Regions from separate parts of the Homo sapiens genome. Here regions 2, 3, 4, 5, 6 and 7 are each linked to region 1. Evidence: fine-mapped QTL for protein levels in blood plasma. Region 1 holds a variant in brackets. A gene starts in each other region. All regions are shown on their forward strands. Distances are from middle to middle.

Region 1 (4,164 bases):
AGACTGGAGTGCAATGGCACAATCTTGGCTCACTGCAATCTCTGCTTCCTGGGTTCAAGCGATTCTCCTGTCTCAGCCTCCCAAGTGGCAAGGATTACAGGTGCCCGCCCCCAAGTCCAGCTAATTTTTGTTGTTACTGTTGTATTTTTAGTAGAGACGGGGTTTCACTGTGTTGACCAGGCTGGTCTAGAACTCTTGACCTGAAGTGATCCACCCACCTCGGCCTCCCAAAGTGCTGGGATTACAGGCATGAGCCACCATGCCCGGCCGATAATATGCATTTTTTTTTTTTTTTAGACAAAGTCTCCCTCTGTTGCCCAGGCTGGAGTGCAATGGCTCGATCTCGGCTCACTGCAACCTCCACCTCCCGAATTCAAGCGATTCTACTGCCTCAGCCTCCTGAGTAGCTGGGATTACAGGCGCACGCCACCATGCCCGGCTTATTTTGGTATTTTTAGTAGAGACAGGATTTCATCATGTTGGTCAGGCTGGTCTCGAACTCCTGACCTCATGATTCACCCGCCTCGGCCTCCCAAAGTGCTGGGATTACAGGCGTGAGCCATCGTGCCCGTCCTGATACTATGTATTCTTAATTCCAGTAAATATCTTGCAGAATGGCTATTCCAATTTATCCTCCCATCAGCAGCTTCTCCCACAACCTTGGCAGCAATTGACTTCCTCTTAATGTTTGTCAATTGGATGGGTGTAAACAGATGGCTCACTCGTGTTTGATTTCTCTAGTTAGTCACTAGTGATTGTAAACATGTCTTCATATGCACATTAGAACCCCAGGCTTCCTCATCTGTGAACTGCTTGTTTATACCTGATGCCACTTTTCCAATAGGTTTCCTGTGTATTTCTTCATCTTGGTCTCCTTCTGTGTTGAATGTCTTCCATTTGTCCTTCCAGATCCACACTCTATCCTTCTCCATGTTGTTCTGTGGCCTGGGAGGCTGAGCTGTATGACTGCATCAAATCGCTCCCTTGCCATCTGGCTTCCAGCCCTCTTCCAGGAAGAGAGGGAAGTGAGGATATTAACTCCCCGGCCCCTCCCTGTAGAGTGGCTGTGGGTTAGCTGCCCCCTGCAACTGAGTATCACAGCTCCTGTTGGGAGGCCCTCTCCCTGCGGTCCTGGAGGTGGTAACAGCTCCCCACTCTGGGATGCCTAGGTTCTTGCTCCATCTTGTGGCTTCCCTAAGCCTGTTCACACCTTTGCAGAGAGTCCCTATATTATGAAATCTTGCACTTACCCATTTTTGGGTGTGCCATCTGTTGCTTGCTGGGAGCCTACCTGATACATTGCTGTTGAACTGAAATTTATCATTTTCATGCAATTTCACAAATTTTTTTTGGCTTTTTGGAATGTGCTTCGGAGGCCTTATTTAACAAGCTCTTCAGCCGGGCGCGATGGCTCACACCTGTAATCCCAGCACTTTGGGAGGCCAAGGTGGGTGGATCATGAGGTCAGGAGATGGAGACCAGCCTGGCCAACAGGGTGAAACCCCGTCTCTACTAAAATTCGAAAAATTAGCTGGGCGTGGTGGCGCATGCCTGTATTCCCAGCTACTCAGGAGGCTAAGAAGGGGAATTGCTTGAACCTGGGAGGCAGAGGTTGCAGTGAGCCAAGATCACGCCACTGCTCTCCAGCCTGACGACAGAGCAAGACTCTGTCTCAAAAAAAAAAAAAAGAAGAAGAAGAAACCCTTCTATACTCTTAGTAGTATAGATTTTTCTTTCTTTCTTTTTTCCTACTAGTTCTGTAATTTTATGTTATATGTTTAGGTCTTCAATCTATCCAACATCCACCTTTGCCTGTGATGTTAGGTATGAATCCAGTTTTACTTATCTTCATAGAGTGAGCCAGTTTTCCCAATAATGTCTTTCTTCTACCAATTTGAGATGTTACCTTTATTGTATATTAAGTTCCCATGTAGGCACAGTTCTGTCTCTCGGCTCTTTATTCTATAACATTGGTTTATCC[G/A]TCTATTCTTGTATCATTACTGTGCTATTTTTATTACTATGGCTTTGTAATATATTTTAAAGTCTAATAAGGCTAGTTCCCCCTTCCTCCAATTTCTCCTTTTTTTCCCATATTGACTTTTATCTTGCCACATATATTTTTTTTAAAGTTGTTGCATTGCTTTTAAAAATCCAATTGAGGTCGGGCGCAGTGGCTCACTCCTCTAATCCCAGCACTTTGGGAGTTTGAGGCAGGTGGATCACTTGAGGTCAGGAGTTCAAGACCAGTCTGGCCAACACGGTGAAACCCCATCTCTACTAAAAATACAAAAATTAGCTGGACGTGGTGGCGGGCACCTGTACTCCCAGCTACTTGAGAGGCTGAGGCAGGAGAATCGCTTGAACCTGGAGGCGGAGGTTGCAGTGAGGTGAGATTACACCATTGTACTCCCACCTGGGTGACAGAGGGAGAATCCATCTCAAAAAGAAAATCAATTGAAATTTTATTTTTATTGCGTTGAATGTATATGTTAATTTGGAAAGAATTTAAGTTTCTTCTTGTATGTTCTTCATGTGTTATTGTGGTGATAGACTAATACACCTGCCGAAGCCTCTTATTAGGTCGAATTGTTTGTTTGTTTGTTGATGGTGTTGATTTTCTGTATAGGTGAGCATATTGTTTTATCTCTTCCTTTCCAATTCTTACAACTTTTAATGTCTTTTTCTGTCTTGTGCAGTTTGGCTACCATGCCCAGGATGATGCTGAACAGCAATAATAGCACTATAACGGAGGCTTCTAATTACCCCTAATACCAATTATCCCCTTCTTGCTACACCAGAGGTCCAGAAACATCTCCTATAAAGGGCCAGATAGCAAGTATTTTAGGCTTACCAGGTCATACAGTCTTTATCATAACTACTCAATTCTGCTGTTGCTGTGGTCATAAATGACATGTAAACAAACAGGCATGGCTGTGTTCCGATAAAACTTTATTTACAGGCCGGGATCCGTGGCTCATTCCTGTAACCCAGCACTTTGGAGGCGAAGGCGGGTAGATCACTTGAGCACAGGAGTTCAAGACCAGCCTGAGCAACATGGTGAAACCCCGTCTCTACAAAAAAATACAAAAATTAGCAGGGTATGGTGGCTTGCGCCTGTAATCCCAGCTACTTGGGAGGCTGAGGCAAGAGGATCACTTGAGCCTGGAAGGCAGAGGCTGCAGTGAGTCAAGATCCAGAGGCTGCAGTGAGTCAAGATCACGCCGCTGCACTCCAGCCTGGGCGACAGAGCCAGACCTTGTTGCAAAAAAAAAAAAAAAAAAAAAAAAAAAAAACTGGCCAGGTGTGGTGGCTCACACCTGTAATCCCAACACTTTGGGAGGCTGAGATGGGCAGATCACCTGAGGCCAGGAGTTCGAGAACAGTCTGGCGAACATGGTGAAACCCCGTCTGTACTAAAAAAAAAAAAAAAAGAAAAAATACAAAACATTAGCCGGGCATAGTGGTGCACGTCTGTAATCCCAGCTACTTGGGAGGCTGAGGCACGAGAACTGCTTGAACCTGAGAGGTAGAGGTTACAGTGAGCCGAGATTGTGCCATTGCACTTCAACCTGGGCAACGGAGAGAGACTCCGTCTCAGAAAAAAAAAAAAAAATAGAAAAAGAAAGCTTTATTTACAGAAGCAGGTGAGGGCCAAAGTTTACTGACTCCTTCTCTACAAAATAGAATCCTGTGTTTTTAGCAAGAATGTGGCCTCATGGAATAAAGTTCATTTCTCAGCCCCATTTGCAGCTATCTGTGGCCCTGGGACTAATTCTGATCAAAGAGATATAAAGTGAAGTGATGGAAGTGTCTGCATAGACAGAGAGAGAATGCGCCATTCTCCTTCCCTTTTCCCCTTTCTCTTGTCCGGAATGTGTCATAACAGGAGGGGCAGACATCTTGGAACATGTGATGGAAGCCACAGATTGAAACGATGGAGCAACAACGTAGAAACAGCTAGAGTCCAGAAAGATTTCATCATAAATCAGAGCTGAACTTTTGCTGAGTGTTTTTTCTGCATTGTGTAATTGTTTTCTTTTGTACACATTTAATCTATTTTTCTGTACTCTCTAAATCTATTATATTAACAGATTTTTCTTATGTTAAATCATCTTTGAATTCTTGGCATCTATACTACTTGAACATGTTACCTTTTTTATTTTT
Region 2 (4,164 bases), not on the chromosome of region 1:
ACCTTGGCCTCTGAAACTTAGCTCCTTGTATAAAACAAAAGCAAAAACAAAACTCTTGGCAATGGGTGAGGCCTCAGAAACCTCCAGGACACTCAGACTTAGGATATAGAACCTCAGAATCCAGTCTGAAGTCCTTGAAGACATGATAACAACTTGTGCAAATGTGTTATCAGGTTTCTCTATTGCTTCCTTCCTTGATATGGGTCTCTGGCTCATTAAGATTTAAATCTTAACTTTAAAAGGCCAATAGCTCCCCTCCACTGTTTTGCTCAGACAGATCTGCAAAGTTTTAAGATGATGGTCTAACAATATTTTTCTCAACAAGCCAAATTATTTTAGAGAGTTAAGTTCCTCTTTCTTTTCTCCCTTTCTCATATATATATATATATATAATATATACTGTATAATATAATATATATTATGTAACATAAGTGTATTACGTTATACAGTATATACTATAGTATATATATATATATAGAGAGAGAGAGTTTATTTATTTAATTTTATTTTGTGCTCTTAACCAACAAACGAATATCATTTGTTCCCAGGGCTCTTTCTCTCGGGAAAACAACAAGAAAAGGAAAGGGAGGAAGAGGAGTCCACTTACCGTCCTCTGAACGACCAACACCATAATAGTGGCCACCGTGAAGACAAGGCACAGAGCCAGAGTGGCTGTGGTCAAATAGAAATAGCTGCGGCTCGTGGTCCCCAGGTGGCTGGCCACGGAGCCCGCCGGCACATGCATGGCTGTGTCTCCAGGAGGGGCCATTCCGTTGAGTGCTTGCTGCAGCCCTGGGTCCATTCTTTATATAGTCTTCCCCACATCACACCTTATCTCTCTTCATCTGATTCAGTTCTGGGCCCATCTCTGTTCCAAGAAGGATTCTCCCCCTGAATCCTGAATCATGTGACTTGGAAAAAAACCTTCACCTGCTGCCTGGTGGAGAAACTCTTCTCTGGGGGCGTGAGGCGAGAGGCGGCAGCAAGGGTGGGGGAGAGGTTCATTTTTCATTGCCAGGGATTAAGTTGTGTGCAGAGAAACTAGCTACAGAGAAGGTGGCTGATGTCAGAGGGCGCGTAGGAAAATGACGGTTCCCCGACTGTGTGTGTGTATGTGTGTGTGTGTGTGTGTGTGTGTGCATGCGTGCGCACACACAAAGCAACTTCTGTTTCGTTTAGACTCTGCCACAAAACGCCTTCCTGTTCAAGAAGCTGCACCTTCTTTCAGCGAGGCCTGTGGCTCAGAAGACCTCCCCAGATAATGAGTCCTTGCTGGGTCTCAGGGAGGCCGGATCCCTCGGACTGCAGTGTAATAACTCCAAAGGGTTCGGTTTGATAGGCTACTGCTGAAAAAGGGACATGCTGCAGGTTCCCTGGGGGAAAAAGGGCACACAAATGGAGATATTTCTCCAAAGGGGGACTGGCTCATGGCAGTATGAAATTTGGGGTTCAAAGATACTGTCAGAAAGCAGGAATCTGGAAATATCAATCTTTTGAACAAACACTCCTGCAGAAGTTTTGGGATCTGTTAAACTGGCAGATGAACCTGGACCTGCCGTAAAACTCATGAAGAGGGGAAGGAATTGGCAGTGAGATGGTGTGGTGTGGAATATGGGGGCTGTGTGTGTTCTGCGTGGTGTACTATGTAGTGTGTGTGTATTTGTGGTATGGGGGTATGTGTAGGTGTTGTGTGTTCTCTATGGTATATGTATGCAGTGTGTGTGTGGTGTGCATTTGTGATCTGCAATGCATGCCGAGTGTGGTGCGTATGTAAGTGTTGTGTGTGGTGTGTATGTATGTGTTGTGTGTGGTGTGTTGTGTCTTGTGTATGTATGTGTTGTGTGTGTATGTGACTACTATAATTGAACCTCTACTGTCTCAGGCACAGCGCTAGGAGTTACATGTGGCTTCATTCCACTTCCACCTCCACCCTCCGAGGCAGGCAATGTTTATTTTTTACAGATGGGAAAACTGAGGCTCAGGGAGGATGAAAACTATCTCAACCTAAGTCGCAAGTGTCGATCACTGAAAGAACTTGGGTGCACTTTGCAGCCTGCCTGGCTGAAAGCTCGTGCTAAGTCATTCAATCTTCACTGCACCTGAAAGCTAAAACCTGAAGTGTGGTCTCAGCCCTTTCCCTTCTTAGCCTTGGGCCATCATACAAGTCTTTATGGCTTTCTCTGTTCCCAATCTGCATTACAGTCATCAGGAAGACCAAGCGAGATGATGTCAGAGTACTCCATGAATAAAAATAGATTTGGGGATGGTGTTGGACAATTCCTGTTAAACATCCCAAGCTGTCTACTGGGCTAAGTCTGGAATTTAGATACAATAGACAGATTACCTGGGGGACAGAGTCAGATCACATCTGTGGTTACTAATGATCTCCATTTCAAAATACCGTTTAAAATGTTAATCACTGCATAGCTGCTGCCTCCAGATGTGGGCCTTTGAAAGCTCCATTTGGTATCACCGTGGAAGAAGCTCATTCTGCATAGCACCTCCTTTCCTTTCTGCTCACTTTTTGTCTGCAGCGCATCACTTTGAGCCAGCAGAGATCCCAGATGCCCCTAAGGAAACGTCCTGTGTCTAAAGCCAAGCTTGGATTATTACCACTGCTGTTCTTGCATAGAACCAAAACTTCTGAGCATCTCCCAAATTAGATCAGGCTTTAGGATTTGGTCTGGATATTTCCTCCCAGTGAGTCTGTAAAAGCATAGATCCTGGAGACGAAAGAGACATCAAGAGATAAATTGTTTTCTTGGGCTAAATAGAGTGGGGGGCGATATACCCATTTTACAATCAAGGAAACCGAGGCCCCCGTGATCCCAATTGAGTTTGGTTTTGAAAACAGTGTGTTCACGTTCGTTTGGTCCGGTAATTAAGGTGGGAACGAGGCAAGCCAGTGTTTTCTGGGGCATGTACCTGGCTGATTTGGGGAGAAGGCTGTGTCCTCTGGTGGGCACGGACAGTGAGTGGGTAGCAAGGGCTCTGTGGTCTGCCCAGAGTTGCTGAGAACCAGCTGCTCCCTTGGCCCTCTTGTTCAGCCTCTTTGATCAAAGTGGAAAACTTCTGATTGTTGAATGGAAGCTGTGGGTGTTGAAAAATAAAAAGGCTTTGCTTGAAGTTCGGGTCTTCCTGAAGGCCTGTGGGGCTGAGAAGGGCAGTGGAAAAAAATGTTTGTCTTACAGTTACCCGTTTTGCATACAATACAATGTCCTGGGAGGGAAGGCTGACAAGGGGGAAAAATCACCCTTTGTTTTTACTCAACTTTCTGAGCAGTTGAGATTTTCGGATCAGTTCCTAGTACAGTAGTTTGTGGGCTCAATTCATTCTTTTGCTGTGACACTCCTCTACTCACAAACCTTCAGTGGCTCCCTATTTCCCACCCCCATTGCTCTAAGCCCCTCTCTGCTTTCCAGCTGTTCTAGAATCTAGCCTGGCCAACATAGAAATCCATGACCTGTGCTAACTGGCTTCTTTCTGTCTTCTACTCAAGCTGTACGATGTGCAGATGGAAGGAGCCTTTATAGAATTTCTTGTTGAGTAAGTTTTAAATCCTTTCTGGAAGCAAAGCTGTATAAGGAATATAAAAACATAAGAAAACAGGGCTGCTTTGGCTGAAGCACAGGTGGGACAAAGAGAAGGGCTAAGCTTCACCTGCTCATTTGCCCTTTTCTGGCATGGGGTCTCTCCAAGGTGAATAAAATTTAGAAACTTCAGAAAATTTGGCTTGAATCCTTCATTCCACAAAAGGAGGAAACTGGGACACAGAAATGGGAACAACTAAAGGAAGTACATACCATCAGGGAGAGAGACAGGTGTAAGAGTCCCTTCTGCTCATTCTCTCTCCTTTTTTTTTTTTTTTTTTTTTTTTGACTGAGTCTCGCCCTGTCACCCAGGTTGGAGTGTAATGGCGCAATCTCGGCTCACTGCAACCTCTGCCTCCTAGGTTCAAGTGATTCTCCTGCCTCAGCCTCCTGAGTTGCTGGGATTACAGGCACACACCCCTAGGCCTGGCTATTTTTTTTTTTTTTTAATCTTTTGTAGAGATAGGGTTTCACCATGTTGGCCAGGCTGGTCTTGAACTCCTGACCTCGTAATCTGCCTGTCTCGGCCTCCCAAAGTGCTGGGATTACAGGCATGAGCTACCGCACCCAACCC
Region 3 (4,164 bases), not on the chromosome of region 1:
CCCAGAATGTTGAATCTTAAATATGAAAAGACTGGTTAGAGAGTCCATGACTAAAATTATAGGAGGAAAATTTTATTTAATGAAATATTAAATACAATACAAATATTGAAGCTCTGAGAAAAAATAACACTACATTAGTAGAAAAAGATATTTAATATAGCGTTTGTGATCATTATTTAGGGGAAAATTAGTTTTGGGGTCTATTTTAGACTGCATCATGTAATAATACCTTAAATAATATATTGCCATCAATATCTCTGAATAGGTTCAGTGCTTTCTTATTAAATGAAAAGTTTTTTTCAAATATGTATGCTTTTTCAAATGTTTGTGTGACAGTGAGAAATAGCACAGCTGTTACAGTAACTATTTGCTTAGAGATTGCCTATACAATTTTTTATCAGATAAATTATAGGTAGCAAGTTATAAGAATGTCAGCAGGGAATGAAATTTTCTTTATACAGTATCTTATCTCAGCCACGTAAAATCTCTTCATTGGACATGAACCTATCAATATGATACAATCTTTGCTTGTAGTGAAATTTGGGAATAAACAGATAATTGAATGCTTCCTCCACATTCTAGGAACACATACTCTCTTATCATTGATGTGTCACCCACTACAGATGTGATGAATTCATGCTGTCAAACACAGTAGTTTACTAATGTGAGAAAACTTAGCTTCATTTTGAGAAATTTTCAAGTGCTCTTTTCTAGTTGTATGAGAAAACCCAAAGGACTAAACCTATTGATTTTAGAAAATCATCCTCTGCATGAACAGATAAACTTCAAGAAAATAAATAATATAAAAAGGTTGGTTGTGGTGGCTAATGCCTGTAATCCCAGGCACTTTAGGGGACTGAGGTGGCAGATTGCTTGAGCCCAGGAGTTTAAGACCAGCTTGGGCAACACAGCGAGACCTCTGTCTCTATTTGAAAAAATACAAAAACAAAAATAATAAATAATATAAAAATTGATGAAATTTAAATTTATTTTTAGTAGTCCAAATATTTGGACTTAAACGGAAATTTAAATTCGATTTTATTATTATATTCACTATTACTTTCTGAGTATAACAAACAAAAACTCTTATAAATTATAGTTCTGTTAAAAAAATCTTGACTTTTTGCATATAAGGCATTACACAAATCTGGAGAAACATTTATAATACTAATCATAATCTGACATACAAAATTGCAGCAATGATCCCTCCTTTACAGACCCTCTTACATTGTATGACAATAGCACTATAAAAAAGTATCCAGTGTTAAGGTACACTTGAAGTCCTACTGTAGAATTTATCTATATTCCAGCAACAAAGGACTCCCTAGACCGGTTTCATTGTATTGAATATAAACATCAGATTTCACAAAGTGACCTCTGCTGTAGCTCAAAATAGCTGGCATTTACTTCCCTGTTATCATGTGTGGTATTAACAAGCATAACACAAGTATTGTTGACTGAAAATAAAATCTTGCATCTTTAGAGAAAATAGAAATTATGATGTGTTTTGAATAAACTGTACAAACTGTACATTTTAGGCTTCAAATTTTTAAAAATTTTTTAAAAAGAAGAAGCAAACAAAACTTCAATATTCCTAAAAGCAAAGATTGCCAAGTCATCTGTGGTCTTTACAACACACTGCCTATGGAGAAAAGCAAATTTGCAGAAGAGAGAAGGTCTTAAGGTATAAAAACTGCTTTAGCTATTTATGAACATGCTATTTTCCTAATGTACATTTGTTTTATTTTAGTTGAATTCCTTAACTAAATTGTCTCTAAGTTCTTCTTAACGCCAGTTTCAAAAACAACACTTATAAAATGATAGTAGTCCTACTGTTTTAAATATAAAAATAAGTGGGATGATGACCCAGGATACTTTCAAAAGGAAGACAAATGCACAAAGGTAGTGACAGTTATAATAATTATTTACTTTTTCAAAAAATTTTAGAAAACAAAAATCTATTATAGGCTTAAATTTGATAACATAAATACTGTGATAACTGGAACAATCACAACTCTGGGAAACTCAAAGACTTAAAAAAATTTACAAACTGTACATTTCAAATGTGTGAGATAGGTACAACAGTAGGTATGAATTTGAATAATAACATTTACAATGCAAACTTTAACAAAATATAGGAGTGAAAGTAAAGCTCTAAATAGCTGAAGAAGCCTAAAAGTTAAATTGCTTATTTTGCTAAGCTGTTCTTAATTTTTAAAAAATGTAGCCTTAATTGAACTCCTATCTGTTGAATATAAACAAAACAAGAAATTGATTTGACTTTTAAAACTGATAAATAGGAAGAATGGAAATGAGAACATCTGGTGAAAATAATGTTGACAGACAGCAGTTGGAATGCTGGAAAGAGACTCCTTTAAACTCAAAAGATAAAGAGGAGAATGAGGGAAAATATTAAGGTAGAAAAAAATTCTTAATAGGACTAGCCATTGGGCAAAGAGAAAAGCTAAAGGCATTTTGGAGTAACAATCTTTTCAAATACGTTCTCCCTTTTGTGTAGGAAATTTTTTTGTTAGTTTGGAATCTTACCTTTCTTCCATATTTCATAAGATGAGACAGATAACTTAAAACGAAGCAGTAAACAGTTTGCAACAATATCTTTAATTAAAAAGAAAACAATTTTCGTAAATTATTTGTAGTTTCACTCTAAGTGGTCACAATTTCATGGCCTATTAGAATATTTGCTGAAATAAATGCATTAAAGACTATTGAACCTATATGTAAACTCTAAAAGAAGAAATTCATTATCTTTTAAAAATATCTGAATTATCTTAATGAGTGCTATGACAATAATTGTTGTTCCAAGAAAACAATAACAATCTATTTATTGAAACTCATTTCTCTTAAATGTTCCTGCTTCTTTGCTGTAACAGTGTGTTATTGTTAAAAGGTTCTGACCTGCTCTTCAATTATCTGAATGCATCTACAGCCTAAAGCAAATATTTACCTTATGTCCACAATTAAAAAAAAAAAACCTAACAAACAGCTAAAACACAATTCACACAGGGCCTTACCGAAGAGAAGGAGGTATATTTTGCACTGAAAGACCCCAAGTGTGTCACCGAAGGGCTCCATGAAAGCATCCTGTCCCATGCATGCAGTGCCCTGTTCTCAGTGGTAACTTGGACCAGCAGCTGCTGGTTTATTTGCTAGGGAAATTAGCAGTGAGGTAACAGACCCTATCTTGCCTCTTGCTTCTGTGATTTGAATACAGAATGAATGTGTATACAAAGGACACAGGGAGTGGGAACACCTGTTATGTGCTTAGCAAGAATACAGGCTTATGGCTTTCAGAAGAGTTTCTTAGCAACTACCAGTAATTGTCTATATATTTCATAAATTATACTTAGTTATTAAAAAATCACATGAAGGAAAACATCCTTTTGCGTGACTTTACTGAAAAATGGCATGTTTTCATAATGAAAGAATATTGTGAGATTTCCTTAAAAACAAAAGCTGGTTTTCTATCATGCAGAACTATGCCATTATTATTTTAAAATTAAAAAAAATTATATGAAAATTGAAGTAGCTCATGTATCTGCTAAACAGTTATAAATCTTCATGAAGTCACTAACATGTAAAAATTCTACCAATGAATCAAAAGAGAGATCCAGAATATATTTAAAACGTATTTTTTCTATGCAGTGTTTCCTATTACAATGACTGATTTCATTTAATCTTTGAATTCATCTTATTTTTAAAAGCAAATCACAGGTGTGTTTCCAACTGGGACTGAGGCATGGACCATGCATAATTATAATGAAAAGTGCATGCCAGGAGATAGTATCTGAGGCCACATTTTCACAGCTGATGCATAGAGGAAGTGAACCAATGATCTAGAAAAGATCTTACCTCTACTGCAGTGTCCAGGTTACAGGTTTTCAACCTGGTCTCTCCATTGTCATGGCAGCAGATAGTCTAAGCATGTCCGCTTAATTTACTAAGTTATTAGTTAACCCCTATTTGCAAGAAGGCTCTGGTTCTAGCCTTGTTATATAAAATGTTAAGGATATATCCAAATCTGCATCAAATCATCAAATCAAGGAAAATTCCTTGCATGCATCAGTTTTAACAGTAAAGGCCCACTGAAGAAGTTCAATGATAAGAGGGGAAGGAAGACTATACCTCAAGCATAATTAAAGTAAA
Region 4 (4,164 bases), not on the chromosome of region 1:
GGAGGAAAACACCATGCATAGGATAGAAACTGAACATTTGGAGGAAGCAACAAAGATGGAGCTTGCTAAAAGGGACAAGTTGGAGAGAATGGAGTAATTATGGATACATGGAGAAGCAAAGAAGATGGAAATTAGATAAAGAAAAAAATGCAGAAAGGGACCAAGAGAAACGGAAGAAGGGTACCCAAGGCAAGGCAACAGGAAACAGTGAGAGATGAGCAAACCCAGGCAGCTCCCGCCATCCTGCCTCTTTTACTCCCCCATCATCTCCAATCATCCACCCGTATAATCCCACCTGGGATGGTGCAAATCAGTTGTTCCACAACTACACAGGGTTTGGAGCAGTCATGGTCATTTTAGGCACAGAGTCACCCACTTGCACAGAGCATCTTCCACCCTGCTTTCCTCACCCAGTATTCTCCGAAGTCGGTTTTTGTTCTTTGTGGCAAGCTCCTGAAAAGAATTATTGGTCTCTTTGGCCCTTCCACAGGCAAAGCTGAAGAAGTCGGTGCAGGGGGCCACACTTGTGTTCCCAGAGGCCAGGTAATGATCCCGGAGATCCAAACACACAGATGTCTCACAGGGGCCTGTGGGGAAAAGCTCAGAGCTGGGAAAGAAGAGGCAAAAAGACAAGGGCTCCCCCAAGGGGCTAGGCAAAGAACATCAGGTGAGTAACTAAGTGGGGAGCTGATGAAAAAGAAATGGTTAGGATGCAGGGAGGAAGAAGAACCATGGGGACCCCAAGGGTCAGGGTGGGCAGAAGCCCCAGGAGCAGGGACTGGGCCTGGGCCCCAGGGCTGGGGGAGGGCTGACTAGGTTAGGGGGTCTGGGATCTTGCTTACGAGGGCCACAGTTCTGGAAGTTGTAGAACAAAAGCACAGAAAAACAAAGGAGCAGGCCCAAAATCAGGATAGCTGTCAGCACCCGCCTGGCCACTGCCCATGGCCTGCTCCCTTCCACGGGCAGCCTCTCTTCTGGAGTGCTCTGTGGGAGGAACCAAGAGGTGAAAGATACAAGATGGGGGTTGAGAGACAGGGATGGGAAGAAGAGGAGAGAGAATGAATCTGTTGGTGCTACAGTCCCTTTATACAGAAATAATTATCCCAATTCTTCCTAAACCCAGCCCTACTTTAACTCCTGGGAGATGAGAAAACAAGGAATGTCAACTGTTTTGGGTGAGGATGAAGCAGACAGTTAGTAGATGAGTGTTTGTGGGATTTTAGAGCCGAGAGTGACAACATCAGTGTATTCCAGACCCAGGAGAGGAGGCCACTTACCTCTTGGCTCCAGAGAGTTCCCATTCCACCTGCCTGGCTGCGTTCCCTCGGCTCTTCCTCACTTTGGTCCCCACCTTCCTGAAGTGAGTGGAGGGAGAAGGAGGAGAGAGAAGCTGGTTCAGGAAATGGTGCATTGAAGAGAGTTTTATCAGGCCATTTTGATACCCTCGCTGCCTGCCCTGCCCCCACACACATATTTTTATCTCGGAGCAGTGTTCCCAGATGGGCTTCAGAACGAACCTGTCCCCTGAATGTGCCATTTCTCGATCCCTCTCCCATTACCTCCCTCTCTCCCCACCTTTCTACTCTGTAAGCCTTACATTCCCTCCCCTCCAGTGGGGGCAGGACTTTTGCACACAGCCACCCTCACCCCTCCCCGCTAAGCCTCTGACTCCAAAAGGGGACTTACCATCTGTCTATCTTCTGTGGCTCCAGAATCCTTCCTGGTTCCACTCTAGGAGCTGATTCGGAGGACTGGGGTCCAGGAAACACCCCCCGCCCCAGTTCCTTGATCCTGGAGAAGGGGCACTTCTGCTGCTCTTTCGCCTTGTCCCCAGACACACAGGACTGGCCTCTGGGTGGAGCCTGCTTATCAGTGGGGGGCACCCAGGCTTCTCCTCCCCCTTTATCTCAGCTTCTCAGGGGAGAAGAGGGAGGGAGTCTTCACTCCCCAAGCAATCTTGCCCTTGGTCTGCTCCTTTTGTCTTGCACTGTGACTCTGCCCATGAAGTTCCTTTATTTCTAAAATATTCTTCCTTCTCTCATTTCTTCTGTATTAAAAAAAATATGAGGCACAGTAAAATTTTAAAGAGTTTATTTAAGTAAGAAGCAATTCATGAATTGGGGAGCACCAGACCGACAAAGGTTTAGTGTTGCGATGACAAAATGTCAGAGGCAAGCATTTATTGGGAAGTTATAGAAGCAAAATGAAACATTATTTGCTTAGTTTGCAGTTACATAATTGCATTTTTTAGGTAACTTTTTGGAAAGTCCCTAGTCACATAATCATATGTTAGTTGGCTGCTTATCATTGGCTGGGGTTAAGTTTTATTTGTTGTAAGCATTTATCAGAAATTGACCCAAGTTAAGTTTAATTTATGTTTGTAGTTTTAGCAAGAATATGGCTATTTTTAAGGTCTTTGGCTTTGTTTGCCTGGGAATTTTTCAGGCCCAGTCTCCATTTTAATTTTGTTTTCACACCTCTCTGATTGGCTTTTCTGGGATTCATCAATTCCCAGGTCAAATGCCACCTTTCCCAGGAGGCCTCCCAGCTCCATGCCCATTCACACTGTTCCCAAGCATGCTTAATTGTTTCTCTCGGTGTTTCATAGCTCTGCTGGCTGCTGGCAAAGTCATGCATTCAAAAGATCACCCAGCTAGGAGACCCTAATCTGCTAATTATTAGCTCTGTGACAATAAACAAGCCACTTAAACTCTGAGGCAGGTAAGCAAGTTTTGTCATCTGGAAAATGAGGGTAATACTTGCCTATGCCTACCTCATAGGATCTCATGCCTTCTACAAAAGAATAAGGCTTTACTGAGCCCCTCTTTCTTTCATTCTGCTTTCTGTTACACTGATAGCTTGCCTCTTCATCTCCTTAGTGATTGAAAACTATGTCATAGCATGTACAGTGTCTGGTTTTCATTCCTGCCCACCCAAGATGCTTTCTAAATGTTAATAGAAATGAATTGCATTCCAAGCCAGAAATCCTCTTTCTCACATCATATTAAGCCCTTACCTGTGGTCTGAGAGAGGCAAGCACATTTCTGGGGGAAGGTGTTTCAACTCTGTCCTTGTTTCCTCATCCCAGGAAAAAAATAATGTAATTTATTAGGTTAGTCTTGCAAATGATCCCCTGGCGATATTTCCAGATTCCATCAGCACTGTGCTAGGGCCATGGTGCACTTGCCAGGATGAGGGTGGGTGTGGAGAAGTGGAGTAAAGCCATTGTGCCCCCTGGGGCCAGCTGGTCGGGTATCATGAAAGTCATAAAGAAAAGTCAGAACTTCATACATTAGAAAAGAAAGCATTGGGAAAAATAAGGCTTTTGAGGAAAGGTGTGGCAAGATACAATAATATCTAAGAAACGCCGGTGTGGTATTGGGGATCTGGACTGATTGGATAAAAGACAAGAAACAGAGTGGTTAGTTTGGTGTTGCAGGAGTGATGAAGGGAGGGCCCGGCCCAAGGGGATGGCAGAGGGGAGGGAAGTGCGTAGAAAGAAAAATTGTATGGAATAAAGTCATGGCAATGGATTGAATGGAGGAGGGGTTTATGATAGAGCCACAGAGGAGCTCCAAGTTGCATTTCTGCATGACTAGGGGAATAGTGATGCCAGCGAACAATGGAATTTTGATTAAGGGGGGAGTAGGAATCAGAGTGAGGGGAAAAAGCTGACTCAGGATTCTAGAGGTGTTTGGTCTGTGTGGGTACACCCTGATGGTGCCTCCTCTTCAAACTTCCCTTCCACAGAAAGTCCAATACTCTCCCCATGGGCTTTTAGCTTCCTTCACACATATTCCCTTCCTCACTCCTTTTCTATCAATCAAAGCCCCTGAGCTGATGTTTCCCTAGGAAGATGATAATGGAGACCACTTAGATTTGATAAGAGAAAGTTGAAGATGGAGTGTGCTCTGTGACATTTGCCTATGGACAGCCACCACAGCCTGGACTTAGGTTCTCTCCCTGTCAGAGAAGCTGAGCCAGCCACAGGGATAGGGCAGCACAGCTGCCAGGTCCACCATTCCTACTCAGCCTCCTCCTGAAGGCCAAGCAACCTCCATCCTGGGAGCTGTCTCAGGAGCAGGACTTCTTCTTATCACCCATATCCTACTCCATGGTGAGTCATCACCAGCACAGCCATACCCAGTCACGGGAGTGCAGCAG
Region 5 (3,998 bases), not on the chromosome of region 1:
GAAGCAACACCAGGCTGAAGCACCTGGCCATCGTGCCTACCCCTTCAGAGCCAGGGAAACACCTCAGATGGCCACTGGTGATATGAGAGGCAGATGCTCAATAACTAGTCCGGATGGAGAGTTCTGGAACTATGTTGAGGCTCACACTCACTGCTCCACTTCATAACCGAGACATCCGGATTTCCCTGCTTTCAAGCTTCTGACTTGTCAAGGTCACTGGGGGAAATGAATGACGTCCCTTGAACGCCCAGGCTGTACTTTGTGGATGGCCTTCTGGAAAATTTAGCTAATGCTGACTCAGAAAACACACAAATGAGGAAGGCAGATAGCACAGTGTGAACTGCTAAAGGTTCTCCCAATTCCCATATTCCCTGCTGTTCCTCCTCCCCCAGCAGCTCAGTTCTCACACCATTCACTGTTACTGCCTGTGGAGTCCATCGTTTATGTACTCCTAGAAACATCTCTGTCCCTAAAGGAGACTGAGCATAGGTTGTGCCTCTTTTCCTCCCGCAATCAGTGATTTTTCCACCCAGCTGTTCGGCCTTGTGATCTGCAGGGTATGATGCTGAAGCTCATGAAAGTAAATGTCCACTTAAATACTGAGTCTAGAACCTTCTGCCTTCCTTTGAGTCTCCTTTTACACATTTGAAATCTCTACACCACTACAGGTGATTCCTTTTTCAAAGAAACCAGGCACATATAAACATTCACATTTACATAACACAAGTAGGAGGGCAATTTACAAAATTAAACATTTTACACTTTCCCCAAGGATTTTTAACTTTACAATAGTAATCACCACAGGGGTCTTTTATGAAATAACTTTCTCTTAATAACTCCTTTCATATTCTGGTAGGCCAGAATTCAAGTCAGACTCCACCTTTGTTGTTCGATGAACATGAGGTTTATCTGTGCTGTGTACCAGCAGAGTGTATTCTATGTTTTTCCAGCCGGATTTTCAGTGGTTTTTGCTTCATGGTAATTATGGAGTTCTGGCTTGTAAGCAATGTCTTGGGCAAAGGTTTATGAGATTTTTCCAAAATGAATGTCTTTTATAGGAAAAGTATATGGATAACGAATTCTTTTTTATATAAGTGGTACTGGTCATAAAGTTAGATATTTGTGTGAAAAATATCAATAACAAAAAGAGAATCTGCTCTAAACAAATGCAGGGAACTTCTAAAAGACCAGGGTAACAGCCCTTACACATCTCCAATACCGACCTCATGATCTGGGTGAGCACAAGCCCCAGTTTCTCAGAAACATGCATGACTCTATCATCACAGCACCAGGGAGGCAGACAGGCAGAGTCCTGGCCTCTTCATGATTATTCTTAAAGCCTAACACCATGCCCGAAAGAGAGCTAGCTTTCTAGCATTTGTTCACTTATTGCAAAAAGAACGAAGGAAGACAGGAAGGGGAAGAATGAATCAGGGAAGGCAAGGCTTTGTGTCAAGGAGGAGAATGAGAGTCACAGTGATCACCAGCCATAGAATTTCTGGAATACCAATGAAGAGGCCTTAGAAAGGTCGCTGTGCCAGCTTTCTATTGCTGTCCAACAAATTACCATAGACTTAGCGGCTTAAACAGTACTCATTTATCATTTAACAGCTTCTATATGTCAGAGGTCTGAGTGGGCTCAGTTGGGTCCTCTGCCCTGGGTCTCACGAAACTGACATTAAGGTGCTGGCTGGGCTGGGCTCTTACCCAGAGGCTCTGGGGAAGAATCCACTTCGAAGCACATTTGGGTTGTTGGCAGAATTCATTTCTTTGAGGTTGTGGGAATGAGGTCCCTGTTTCCTTGCAGGGTGTCAGCCAGGGACCATTCTCTTCTCCTAGAGCCCTTCCATTTTCAAAGCAGCAATGACACACTGAGTCCTTCTCATACTTCTAGTCTCTCTTTCACTTCTACAGTTAGCCAGAGAAAGTTCTCTGCTCTTTTAAGAGACACGGTCTTGCTCTGTTGGCTGGAGCGCAGTGGCGCCATCGTGACTCACTGCAGCATCTACCTCCTGGGCTCAAGCAGAGCTCTCTACTTTTTTTTTTTTTTTTTTTTTTTTTGAGACAGAGTCTCACTCTGTTGCCCAGGCTGGAGTGCAGTGGCGTGATCTCAGCTCACTGCAAGCTCTGCCTCCTGGGTTCATGCCATTCCTTGCCTCAGCCTCCCGAGTATCTGGGACTACAGGCGCCCGCCACCACACCCAGCTAATTTTTTGTATTTTTGGTAGAGGCAGGGTTTCACTGTGTTAGCCAGGATGGTCTCGATCTCCTGACCTCATGATCCGCCCGCCTCAGCCTCCCAAATGCTGGGATTACAGGCGTGAGCCACCGCGCCCGGCGAGCTGTCTGCTTTTAAGGGCTCATGGGCCCACCTGGATAACCTCCCTATCTTAAGGTCAACTGTACCATCTAATGTAACACAACAAAGCTCCATACCCCTGGAGCTCCTATTCAAAGGCTCCAGGGATTAGGGTGGGACATCTTTGGAGGGCTATTCTAGAAATTCTGCCTTCCACAGTCACTTAACCTTGATTTGATTCTGATCTGCTTTCTGAGAGAAACTTCCACATCCACTGTTTTCTGCGGCCCTTTGCATCCCTCTGGGAGATTCATTTGCATATAATCTTGCTTGTCCACATTTGAAGTGGATATTAGGGAGTATGCCTTCCTTGGGAATAGCACAGCTTTTGCAGTCTGCTTCCTGCCGGCATAAGCTAAGATCCCAAAAGTTTTCTTAATTTTAAAAAAATTTTATTTTTAATCAATACATAATTATACACATGTACATTTTGATGTTTCCATACAAACAAGATGTAGTGATCAGATCAGGCTAATTAGCATATCCATCATCTGAAACATTTATCCTTTGTGTTGGGGGTGTTCAATATCTTCTCTTCCAGCTATTTGAAAATATGTTATTGTTATCTATAGTCATCCTATAGTGCCATAAAACACTATAACTTGTTCCTCCTAATTTTATGTCCTTTAACAAATCTGTCTTTTCCTCCTCTCTTCCCTTTCCAGCCACTAGTATCCTCTATTCTGTTTTTTACTTCCATGAGATCTTTTGTTAGCTTCCATGAATTAGAACATGTGGTGTTAACTTTCTGTTCATGGCTTATTTTACTTCACATAATGACCTCCATTTCCATCTATGTTGCTGTGAATGCCAGGATTTCATTTTTTACGGCTGAATACTATTCCGTTGTGTATGTACACCATGTTTTCTTTATCCACTCATCTGTTGCTGGACACATTTTAATACCATATCTTGGCGATTGTGAATACTGCTGCAATAAACATGAGGGTGCAGGTATCTCTCTGATATATTTTCTTTCCTCCTCAAAGCTGTTTCCTCACCTGAACAATGAAAGGGGTTTTTAGTCCTGGCTTGTGTTTCTTTGTAAATTCCCTCACAAAGTTAGATTTCTGCTTCCATGTGCCAATAATCATACCCCAAATCCTTTCCCAGTCATAATTCTCAAGAAGTATTTCCTGTTTCTCAGCACCATACCCCTCAAATTTAGTGGTGAATACACTAAGTTCATTTGAACTCACAAAGGGCCACATCCTTAATCTAGCCTTTGCCATAAGGCTGAGTCGATCTGTTCAACTGAGAAATTTTATTGGCTCCCACTCAAAGCTCTTTTTAGTCTGTCTGGGATTTAGAAGTGGTCAGGTTTTCTCACCCTTCAATCTTTCACATTTCTGAATACTCTATATTCTTTTTCATTTTTGCTCCCACATAGCCAATTATTTCTCCTGCCATACCTTGCCAAAGGCAGCCAAGAGAAGTTTCCATACCCCAACGCTGATTCTTTCCACCACTTATAAATAGGCTAACCATGAGATGCTTTCCAAGTTATCACAGGTAAGACTTTACTATCTTACCATCTTTCTAGCAGTTTTGTTTCTTGCCATGTAACTGGTAAGCTAGAACCTCATATTTTGGAATTTTGCTATTAAAGTACACAATTTCTGGTTCAAATGTATGCATT
Region 6 (4,164 bases), not on the chromosome of region 1:
TCACAGCTACTCAGGAGTGGCAGAATTGCTTGAACCCCGGAGGCGGAGGTTGCAGTGAGCCGAGATCCATGCCATTGCACTCCAGCCTGGGCAACAGAGCAAGACTCGGTCTCAAAAAGATAGAAAAAAGAAAGAAAGAAAGAAAGAAAGAAAGAAAGAAAGAAAGAAAGAAAGAAGGAAGGAAGGAAGGAAGGAAGGAAGGAAGGAAGGAAGGAAGGAAGGAAGGAAGGAAGGAAGGAAGAAAGAAAGGAAGGAGATGGAGTCTTGCTCTGTCGCCTAGGCTGGAGTGCAGTGGCATGATCTCAGCTCACTGCAACCTCTGCCTCCCGGGTTCAAGTGATTCTCCCACCTCAGCCTCCTGAGTAGCTGGAACTACAGGAACCCACCACCACACCCGGCTAATTTTTGTATTTTTTAGTAGAGAGGGGGCTTCACCATATTGGCGAGGCTGGTCTGAAACTCCTGATCTTGTGATCCACCCGCCTCGGCCTCCCAGAGTGCTGGGATTACAGGTGTGAGCCACCATGCCTGGCCACAAGACTCCATCTCAATAAAAAAAATAAAATTAAATTGAGACCTGGCTCAGATACTTTTCCGTTTTTGCCCCACAGGCAGGTTGTGGGTGTAAGGATAGGACAAGGCAGTGAAATCAAACCTGTGGGACTCTCTGAGATGAAGGGGGTGGCGGGTACACTGTGTGTGCATTTGTCAGACCTCATTGAACTTAAGAACCTGTGCTTTCTACTGCATGTAAGTTACATTGCAAAATAAGAAGTCCAGGCCGGGCGCCGTGACTCACACCAGTAATCCCAACACTTTGGGAGGCCAAGGCAGGTGGATCACCTGAGGTCAGGAGTTCGAGACCAGCTTGGCCAACATGGTGAAATCCCATCTCTACTAAAAATACAAAAATTAGCCAGTCATGATGGTGTATGCCTGTAATCCCAGCTTGGGAGGCTGAGACAGGAGAAACACTTGAACCCGGGAGGTGGAGGTTGCAGTGAGCCGAGATTGTGCCACTGTACTCCAGCCTGGTGACAGAGAGAGACTCTGTCTCAGGAAAAAAAAAAAAAAAACCCAAATACTCAAGCTCAGTGTGATTGCCTGGGCCAGAGAAGGATGGTCAGTGGGCCATCTCCTCCTCATCAGGGACCAGAAGCGCCACGGCCTTAGGGTCCTTCTGTGAAGAGGCCAGTATGAGGCTGTCCTTTCTCCCCTTCAATCCCCATCCTCCCCCAAGGTCCCTTTGAATAAGCAGGCAATAGAAATGTGTTTGTTGGGCCAACAAGCCAAGCACAGCAGCCCCTCACCTCTAGTCATGTTCCCTCCCAGATGGAAATTCTGCAGAACTGCTACAGCCTGGGGACCTCCTGAGACTTGGCAGCCTGTGTCTGGGAGGGCTCTGGTCCAGGAGACCCTCACTGGCCTCTTCCCAATCCCTCCTCTAGCCCTATACCTATTTCACCCCGAATTCCCCTCTCCTGAGCCCTGGGCCAGAGAGGCCAACCTCTTGTCTCTCCCCTCTGACCCCTTACACAAGCCACCCAAGGAAGAACCACCACCCCTATCAGGCCCTTCCAAATCAGATCTTGCATAGAATCATCGAATCACAGGCTGGCAGAGCTGCCAGAGCCATCAGGAGCTCTCCAGGTCCTCCCAACTCAGTGTAGGTCTGGACCAGCAGTGCCGGCATCTCACATCTCCCAGGAGTGTGTTGGATATACAGAATCTCAGGTCGCACCTGAGACCGACTGAGTCTGAATCTGCATTGTAACAAAATCCTCAGGTAACTTGTATGCACAGGAAAGTATGAAAAGCACTGCTCTGGTCTAGTCTATCACTGTCCCCCTGCCCCCAACACCTGCAATTGAATAGAAGTGGACACTGAAGCCTCAAGAGTATCAGAGGCTTGCTCAGGACACACAGTGAGTCGCTGGCAGAGCTGGGACAGATCCACAGCACCAGGTGGACCAGTTCCACCACACCCATCTCTTTTCACCCCACTACCTCTCCAAAGCAGATACCCACAAGCCTGCAGTCCAGTGTTGGGGAGACTAAAACAGCCTGAGGACACCCAGTGAGGGGCAAGGACTGAATCCTTTCACAGGGGTCTTCTCCATCACACCCCAACAAAGTCCCCCACCCCCCGTTCTGCTCTTACCATGCCAAGCTGTGGCCACCAGCAGGAGCAGCAGAACTCCTGGGCCCATGGCCTCGGTGGGGAAGTGGCAGGCAGGTGCAGGGCTGCAAGGTGCCCAGGGCACAGAGCTCTCAGCTACTAGCTCCGCAGGGATCGGGACACTGGACACACGTTCCTCTCCTCTGCACTGGCTGTTTGTCTTGTTTTCCTCTTCCTCCTCCTTGGGCTGATCCTCTTCTTCCCCTTTTAGCTAGGCAAGGCAACCACAGAGTTTGGAAATCTTGGGTCTTTAAGAAGAAAACAAAGCCTTGAACCCAAGAGGGAGGGGTCGCAGTCTGGGGCAGGGCCAGCCTGAGCTTGGGGGGAGCTAGCTAAGTTTGGGGCCCTTCTAAAGCCATCTTCAAGGGGTCTTGGGAGAAGAGACATGTCCAAGAGCAGCCAGACCGTTAGTCAGTAGCACAAATGAGGGTCTTCAGAGTGATCAGGTGGCTCTGGCAGATCCCAAAGAGAAGTTAGGTTGCATGATATTGTGACATATATATTTTTTCTTTACCCTGATGTCCTGGCTTACAACTCCTAAAATCCTTGGAATCTCCAAAGTAATGCATATCTTTTAAAAATTTATTATTATTATTTTAGAGACGCAGTTTCACTCTGTTGCCCAGGCTGGAGCTCTGTGGCTCGATCATAGCTCACTGCAGCCTCAAACTCCTGGCTCAAGCCTTCAAGCTGTGAGATCTGACGTTATCTCTAGGTAAATATAGTGTTCAAATTGAATCGGAGGGCACCAGATTCGTGTCTGCTGCAGAATCTGAACAATTGGTTGATTGCTTGGTGTATGGGGAAATATGCCCCATCCTCTACATCTGGGGTCAGAAGTATTTTGTGTTGTGAGACTATAGGAGAAACGGAGTTTGTTTTCTTCCTGTATACAGGTTGGTCTGGGAGAGCCTGATAATATTGGCAATAAGCTTCCTTTTACAGGACATTTACTAGCCAAACCTTTTACATTCACTGTCTCCTTTAGTACTGCAAAACTTTATGTAGGTAAGTACTATTGTCATTCTCATTTCACAGATGGGAAAACTAAAGCTCAGAGAGATCAAATGCCTTAAGCTTGTCCATAGTCAAACAGCTACCAAATGGTGGAGATAGGATTTGGATCCCAGCAGTCTGGTTATAAAACTATCTTTTGTGCGTTACTTACATTGTTTATTTATTTTTACAAAGAATCTAATTGTTCTGCATAATTCTTAAAATATATAGCATTCCTTTGCTCCCTCTTTTCCTGGAGGCAATTGCTTTTACCTCTTTTAGTTGATTCGCTTAGTATTTTACTTCTTATCTCTAAAGAACATGGTCATTTCTTCTTCTTTTTTTCTTTTTTTTTTTCTGAGACAGGGTTTGGTTCTGTCACCCAGGCTGGAGTGCAGTAGTGTGATCTCGGCTCACTGCAACCTCCACCTCCCGGACTCAAGCCATCCTCCTACCTCATCCTCCTGAGTAGTTGGGACTACAGGGGCATGTGCCACCATTCCTAGCAAATTTCTGTATTTTTGGTAGACATGGGGTTTCACCATGTTGTCCAGGCTGGTCTCAAACCCCTGAGCTCAAGTGATTCGCATACCTTGGCTTCCCAAAGTACTGGGATTATAGGTATGAGCCACTATACCCAGCCTAAAGTTCCTTCTTGAAATTGAAAAATCCTGATATAACATTGATCCAGGAAAATGATCATTCCCGTGTACTCAGGTGTGTGTGTGGTGTGTATGTGTGTGTTTGTATGTATATTTATGAGTGTATATATGTACTTTCTTTTTCAGAAAAGTGTTTTGAACCTTTAGCAATCATGAATGTCAATCAAAGCTGACTCAAGAAGAAAAAGAAAATCCAAATAAACCTATAACAAGAAAAGAAATTTAATCAGTAATCAAAAACCTCCCGACAAAGCAAAGCCCAGGACCAGATGGCTTCACTGGTGAATTCTCCCAAACATTTAAAGAAGAATTAATACCAATCCTTTT
Region 7 (4,000 bases), 57 Mb after region 1:
AGATCGCGACACTGCATTCCAGCCTGGGTGACAGAGTGAGACTCTATCTCAAAAAAAAAAAAAAAAAAAAAAAAGACACAAAGAAACATTTCAAAGAAAAGGAAACATGTCTAAACAAGTGAAAAGATTATTTAGCTCGAGTAGCCAGGGAAATTAAAATTAAAATTACAATGGGACCGATACTATTTTATATGTATTAGGTTGGCAAAAGTTAAGAAATATGACAAGACCAATTGTTGGAGAGGCCGTAGGTTAATAGGCACCCTTCTAACTGCTGATGAGAGTGTATATTGGTGCTCTCAGAGATAATTAGGCATTATCTTGTAAACGGAATATTCTTATACCCTGTAACTCACAGTTCCATTCTTAGATGTATGCCCTAGAAACGCTGTCACACTAAGAACCAGACATGTCTTTGTGTTTACTTCTCTTTTTTTTTTTTTTTTTTTTTTTTTTGAGACGGGGTCTCGTTGTGTCGCCCAGGCTGGAGTGCAGTGGCGCGATCTTGGCTTACTGCAACCTCCACCTCCCGGGTTCGAGCTATTCTCCTGCCTCAGTCTCCCGAATAGCTGAAACTACAGGCGTACGCCACCACACCCAGCTAATTTTTGTATTTTTAGTAGAGATGGGGTTTCATCTTGTTGGCCAGGACCGTCTCTATCTCTTGACCTCATGATCCTCCTGCCTTGGCCTCCCAAAGTGCTGGGATTACAGGCATGAGCCACTGCTCCCGGCCTTACTTCTCACTATCTGTGTGACCTTGAGCAAATCACTTAATCTTTCTGTGCCTCAATTTCCTCATCTGCAAAAAGGAATCAATAATAGTATCTTCCTCATAGGGTTTTTGTGCAGATTAAACAAATAAAATAAGTAAATATTTTAAAGCATTTAGAACAGTGCCTAGCACACAGTAACGCTATATAACTGTTTCATAAAATAAAAATAAATAGGCATAGCCAGGTGCAGCAGTTCAAGACTGTAGTCCCAACTAATCAGGAGGCTGAGGTGGGAAGATCACTGGATCCCAGGAGTTCGAGGTTGTAGTGTGCTATGATCATGCCTGTGAATAGCCACTGCACTCCAGCCTGGGAAATATAGTGTGACCCCATCTCAGTAAATAAATAAATAAATAAATAAATAGAGATGCATATGTAATAAAGCACTTAAAAATAAGAGAACAATAAACACAAAATTCCAGAGGGTGGCTACCTGTGGGTGGGAGGCAAGTAGCATAAAAGTGGACAAGTGGTGGCCAGGTGTGGTGGCTCACGCCTGTAATCCCAGCATTTTGGGAGGCCGAGGTGGGCGGATCATGAGGTCAAGAGATCGAGACTCTCCTGGCCAACATAGTGAAACCCTGTCGCTACCAAAAACACAAAAATTAGCTGGGCATGGTGGCATGCGCACCTGTAGTCCCAGCTACTTGGGAGGCTGAGACAAGAGAATCGCTTGAACCCAGCAGGCGAAGGTTGTGGTGAGCCAAGATTGTGCCACTGCACTCCAGCCTGGGCGACAAGAATGAAAACTCTGTCTCAAAAAAAAAAAAAAAAAAAAAAAGCAGATAAGTGGTGTTTGCAGTTTGGTGATACTCCATCCTTGTGCTGAGTGGCAGCTTCAGGTGTGTTTGGTATATTACTGTGCAGTATGATGTATATGTATGTTACATAAGCTTTTTATGCGTTACCTAGTAAATTTTACAAAAATAATAAAAGGGAAAAAGGGCCTTTCTACGTGCCTAGAAAGAAGAGGCTTCATGGGAATGTGAGCCATGGGTTAGGAAAGACCCCCTCGAACCGAGGCAGGTAGGAAGTGAGTGACTGAGATTCATTATGAACCCACCACGCCTGCCGGGGAGAACAGGGACTGTCCCTTCCCCTCTGCATCAGCTCAGATGGTCCAGATCACAGCCCACGTGGGCCCCTAAATAAGGAGGCAGCCCCACATTTCTACATCGGCCACCGAGATGGCAGAGCAGAGGAAGGAGAGAGGGGAGACAAATCAGGAAAGGAGCGCCAGGGCAAGTGCGTGAGCTCAGAGACCCAGCAGGGCAGGGCAGGAGCTTCACAGAGTGCAGAATGTCGAGCCACAGGAGCGCTGGGGATTCCCCAACCCCTGCACTTACCAGCGAGAAACTGAGACCCAGAGAGGGGAACGGACTAAAACTCAGACCTCGACACTGCCAAAATCCTTCCCATGCTGCCACGCTTCATTGGAGGGAAAGTGAGAAGCTCAACCTTACCCCTGTGGGCTCCAAGAAGGGTAGCTCTGGGATCCCGGGCAGGAAATTGGTGACAAGGTGACAAGGTGCGCGTGTCACAGCTGCCCAGTTCACGGCTTATTCAGTCTTCTCCCTCCCCCCACTCCCCACCAGAAGTGACGTGCTTCCTGTGCCCCGGTTCCCACCCTAAACTAGCCTCATTTAGCTCCACTCCCATTCCGCTTTTTTTTTTTTTAATTGTGGTAAAACGTACACAACAGAATTTACCATTTCAATTTTTTTTTTTTTTTTAGACTGAGTCTCAGTCACCCAGGCTGGAGTGCAGTGGTGTGATCTCGGCTCACTGCAACCTCTGCCTCCCGAGTTCACGTGATTCTTGTGCCTCAGCCCGCAGAGTAACCGGGACCACAGGCACCTGCCACCACGCCTGGCTAATTTTTGTATTTTTAGTAGAGACAGGGTTTCACCATGTTGGCCAGGCTGGTCTCGAACTCCTGACCTCAAGTGAACTGCCTTCCTCGGCCTCCTAAAGTGCTAGGATTACAGGCAAGAGCCACTGCGTCCAGCCAATTTTTTGTTGTGTTGTTTTTAAGACAGAGTCTTGCTTTTGTCACCTAGGCTGGAGTGCAGTGGCACAATCACAGTTCGTGGCAACCTCTGACCCCTGAGCTCAAGTGACCCTCCCTCCTCAACTTCCCAAGTGACTGGGACTACAAGTGTGCAGCCACCAGGCTTGGCTAATTTCTGTAGTTTTTGTAGAGACAGAGTGTTGCTTATGTTGCCCAGCCTGGTCTCAAACTCTTGAGCTCAAGCAATCCTCCCACCTCAGCCTCCCAAATGCTGGGAATGAGCCACCGTGCTAGGCCCATTTTAATTATGTTTAAGTGTACAGTTTGGGGCACTAAGTACATTCACATTGTTCTGCAACCATCACCACCATCCATCTCTGGAGCTCTCTCTTTCTCTTTTCTTTCTTTTTTTTTTTTTGAGATGGAGTTTCGCTCTGTTGCCCAGGCTGGAGTGCAGTGGTGTGATCTTGGCTCACTGTAACCTCTGCCTCCCAGGTTCAAACGATTCTCTTGCCTCAGTGTTTTTGTTGTTGTTGTTGTTGTTTGTTTGTTTGTTTGTTTTGTAGAGATGGAGCCTCACTCTGTCGCCCAGGCTGGAGTGCTGGAGTGCAGTGGTGTGATCTCGGCTCACTGCAACCTCCGCCTCCCGAGTTCAAGCAATTCTCCTGCCTCAGCCTCCTGAGTAGCTGGGACTACAGGTGCACGCCACCACGCCTGGTTAATTTCTTTTGTATTTTAGCAGAGATGGGGTTTCACCATGTTGCCTAGGCTGGTCTCAAACTCTTGAGCTCAGGCAATCCGCCCGCCTTGGCCTCCCAAAGTGTTGGGATTACAGGCATGAGCCACCGTGCCTGGCCTTGCCTCAGCCTCTTGAGTAGCTGGGATTACAGGCACGTGCCGACTGGCTAATTTTTGTATTTTTAGTAGAGATGGGGTTTCATCATGTCGGCCAGGCTGGTCTCGAACTCCTGACCTCAAATGATCCGCCCACCTCAGCCTCCCAAAGTGCTGGTATTACAGGCATGAACCACCACGCTTGGCCAGAACTGCCTTCCTTTTGAAGGCTGAGCAATATCCTATTGTGCGTGTGTGCCGCATTCTGTTCATGCATTCATATACTGATGGACACCTGTGTTGCTTCCACCTTTGGCTATTGTGAATAGTGCTGCTACAAACAGGGTTGTACAAATACCTGCTCAAGACTCTGCTTTCA

Which allele goes with the higher level. Positions count from the first base shown, and alleles are read on the strand shown. Strength reflects both the effect of a copy and how common the allele is.
As copies of G replace A in region 1, the plasma level of the protein whose gene starts at base 1,090 in region 2 goes down (strong association).
For the plasma level of the protein whose gene starts at base 3,134 in region 3, A is the high allele of the variant in region 1 and G is the other (moderate association).
For the plasma level of the protein whose gene starts at base 1,846 in region 4, G is the low allele of the variant in region 1 and A is the other (moderate association).
For the plasma level of the protein whose gene starts at base 164 in region 5, G is the low allele of the variant in region 1 and A is the other (moderate association).
With allele A in place of G in region 1, the plasma level of the protein whose gene starts at base 2,337 in region 6 is higher (moderate association).
For the plasma level of the protein whose gene starts at base 2,350 in region 7, allele A in region 1 goes with a higher level than allele G (strong association).

Evidence for each region. PIP is the posterior inclusion probability: the model's chance that the variant is causal. Protein levels are from antibody-based Olink assays in UK Biobank. Linkage for the fine-mapping came from a reference panel and not from the study's own genotypes, which makes the PIPs less certain.
Region 2: TNFSF8 starts here. The variant in region 1 is fine-mapped to the plasma level of the TNFSF8 protein (UK Biobank, PIP above 0.99).
Region 3: HEPACAM2 starts here. The variant in region 1 is fine-mapped to the plasma level of the HEPACAM2 protein (UK Biobank, PIP above 0.99).
Region 4: KEL starts here. The variant in region 1 is fine-mapped to the plasma level of the KEL protein (UK Biobank, PIP above 0.99).
Region 5: LYVE1 starts here. The variant in region 1 is fine-mapped to the plasma level of the LYVE1 protein (UK Biobank, PIP above 0.99).
Region 6: it holds the start of CSF1R, and the variant in region 1 is fine-mapped to the plasma level of the CSF1R protein (UK Biobank, PIP above 0.99).
Region 7: it holds the start of ICAM2, and the variant in region 1 is fine-mapped to the plasma level of the ICAM2 protein (UK Biobank, PIP above 0.99).

Annotation. Positions count from the first base shown.
Region 1 is chr17:7,164,112-7,168,275 of GRCh38, forward strand. No RefSeq gene overlaps it. Among named protein-coding and RNA genes, the nearest start is that of ASGR1, 13 kb to the right of the region's middle. The variant G/A (reference allele first, on the strand shown) is at 1,982.
Region 2 is chr9:114,929,502-114,933,665 of GRCh38, forward strand. TNFSF8 (TNF superfamily member 8) reads right to left here and starts at 1,090. Exons shown (of 4, transcript NM_001244.4): 1 at 608-1,090. The coding sequence starts at 802. RefSeq lists an enhancer at 184-743.
Region 3 is chr7:93,223,336-93,227,499 of GRCh38, forward strand. HEPACAM2 (HEPACAM family member 2) reads right to left here and starts at 3,134. Exons shown (of 10, transcript NM_001039372.4): 1 at 3,033-3,134. The coding sequence starts at 3,111.
Region 4 is chr7:142,960,518-142,964,681 of GRCh38, forward strand. KEL (Kell metallo-endopeptidase (Kell blood group)) reads right to left here and starts at 1,846. Exons shown (of 19, transcript NM_000420.3): 1 at 1,687-1,846; 2 at 1,278-1,355; 3 at 843-984; 4 at 411-587. The coding sequence starts at 1,689. RefSeq lists a silencer at 1,610-1,805 and a cis regulatory region at 3,928-4,164.
Region 5 is chr11:10,568,502-10,572,499 of GRCh38, forward strand. It overlaps LYVE1 (lymphatic vessel endothelial hyaluronan receptor 1), which reads right to left and starts at 164. Exons shown (of 6, transcript NM_006691.4): 1 at 1-164. The coding sequence starts at 31. All of the region lies in intron 1 of IRAG1-AS1 (IRAG1 antisense RNA 1), which reads left to right.
Region 6 is chr5:150,084,218-150,088,381 of GRCh38, forward strand. CSF1R (colony stimulating factor 1 receptor) reads right to left here and starts at 2,337. Exons shown (of 21, transcript NM_001288705.3): 1 at 2,162-2,337. The coding sequence starts at 2,210. RefSeq lists a promoter at 2,210-2,642 and an enhancer at 2,395-2,424.
Region 7 is chr17:64,018,284-64,022,283 of GRCh38, forward strand. It overlaps ICAM2 (intercellular adhesion molecule 2), which reads right to left and starts at 2,350. Exons shown (of 5, transcript NM_001099789.2): 1 at 2,240-2,350. RefSeq lists enhancers at 1,970-2,089, 2,184-2,684, 2,430-2,519, 2,740-2,789.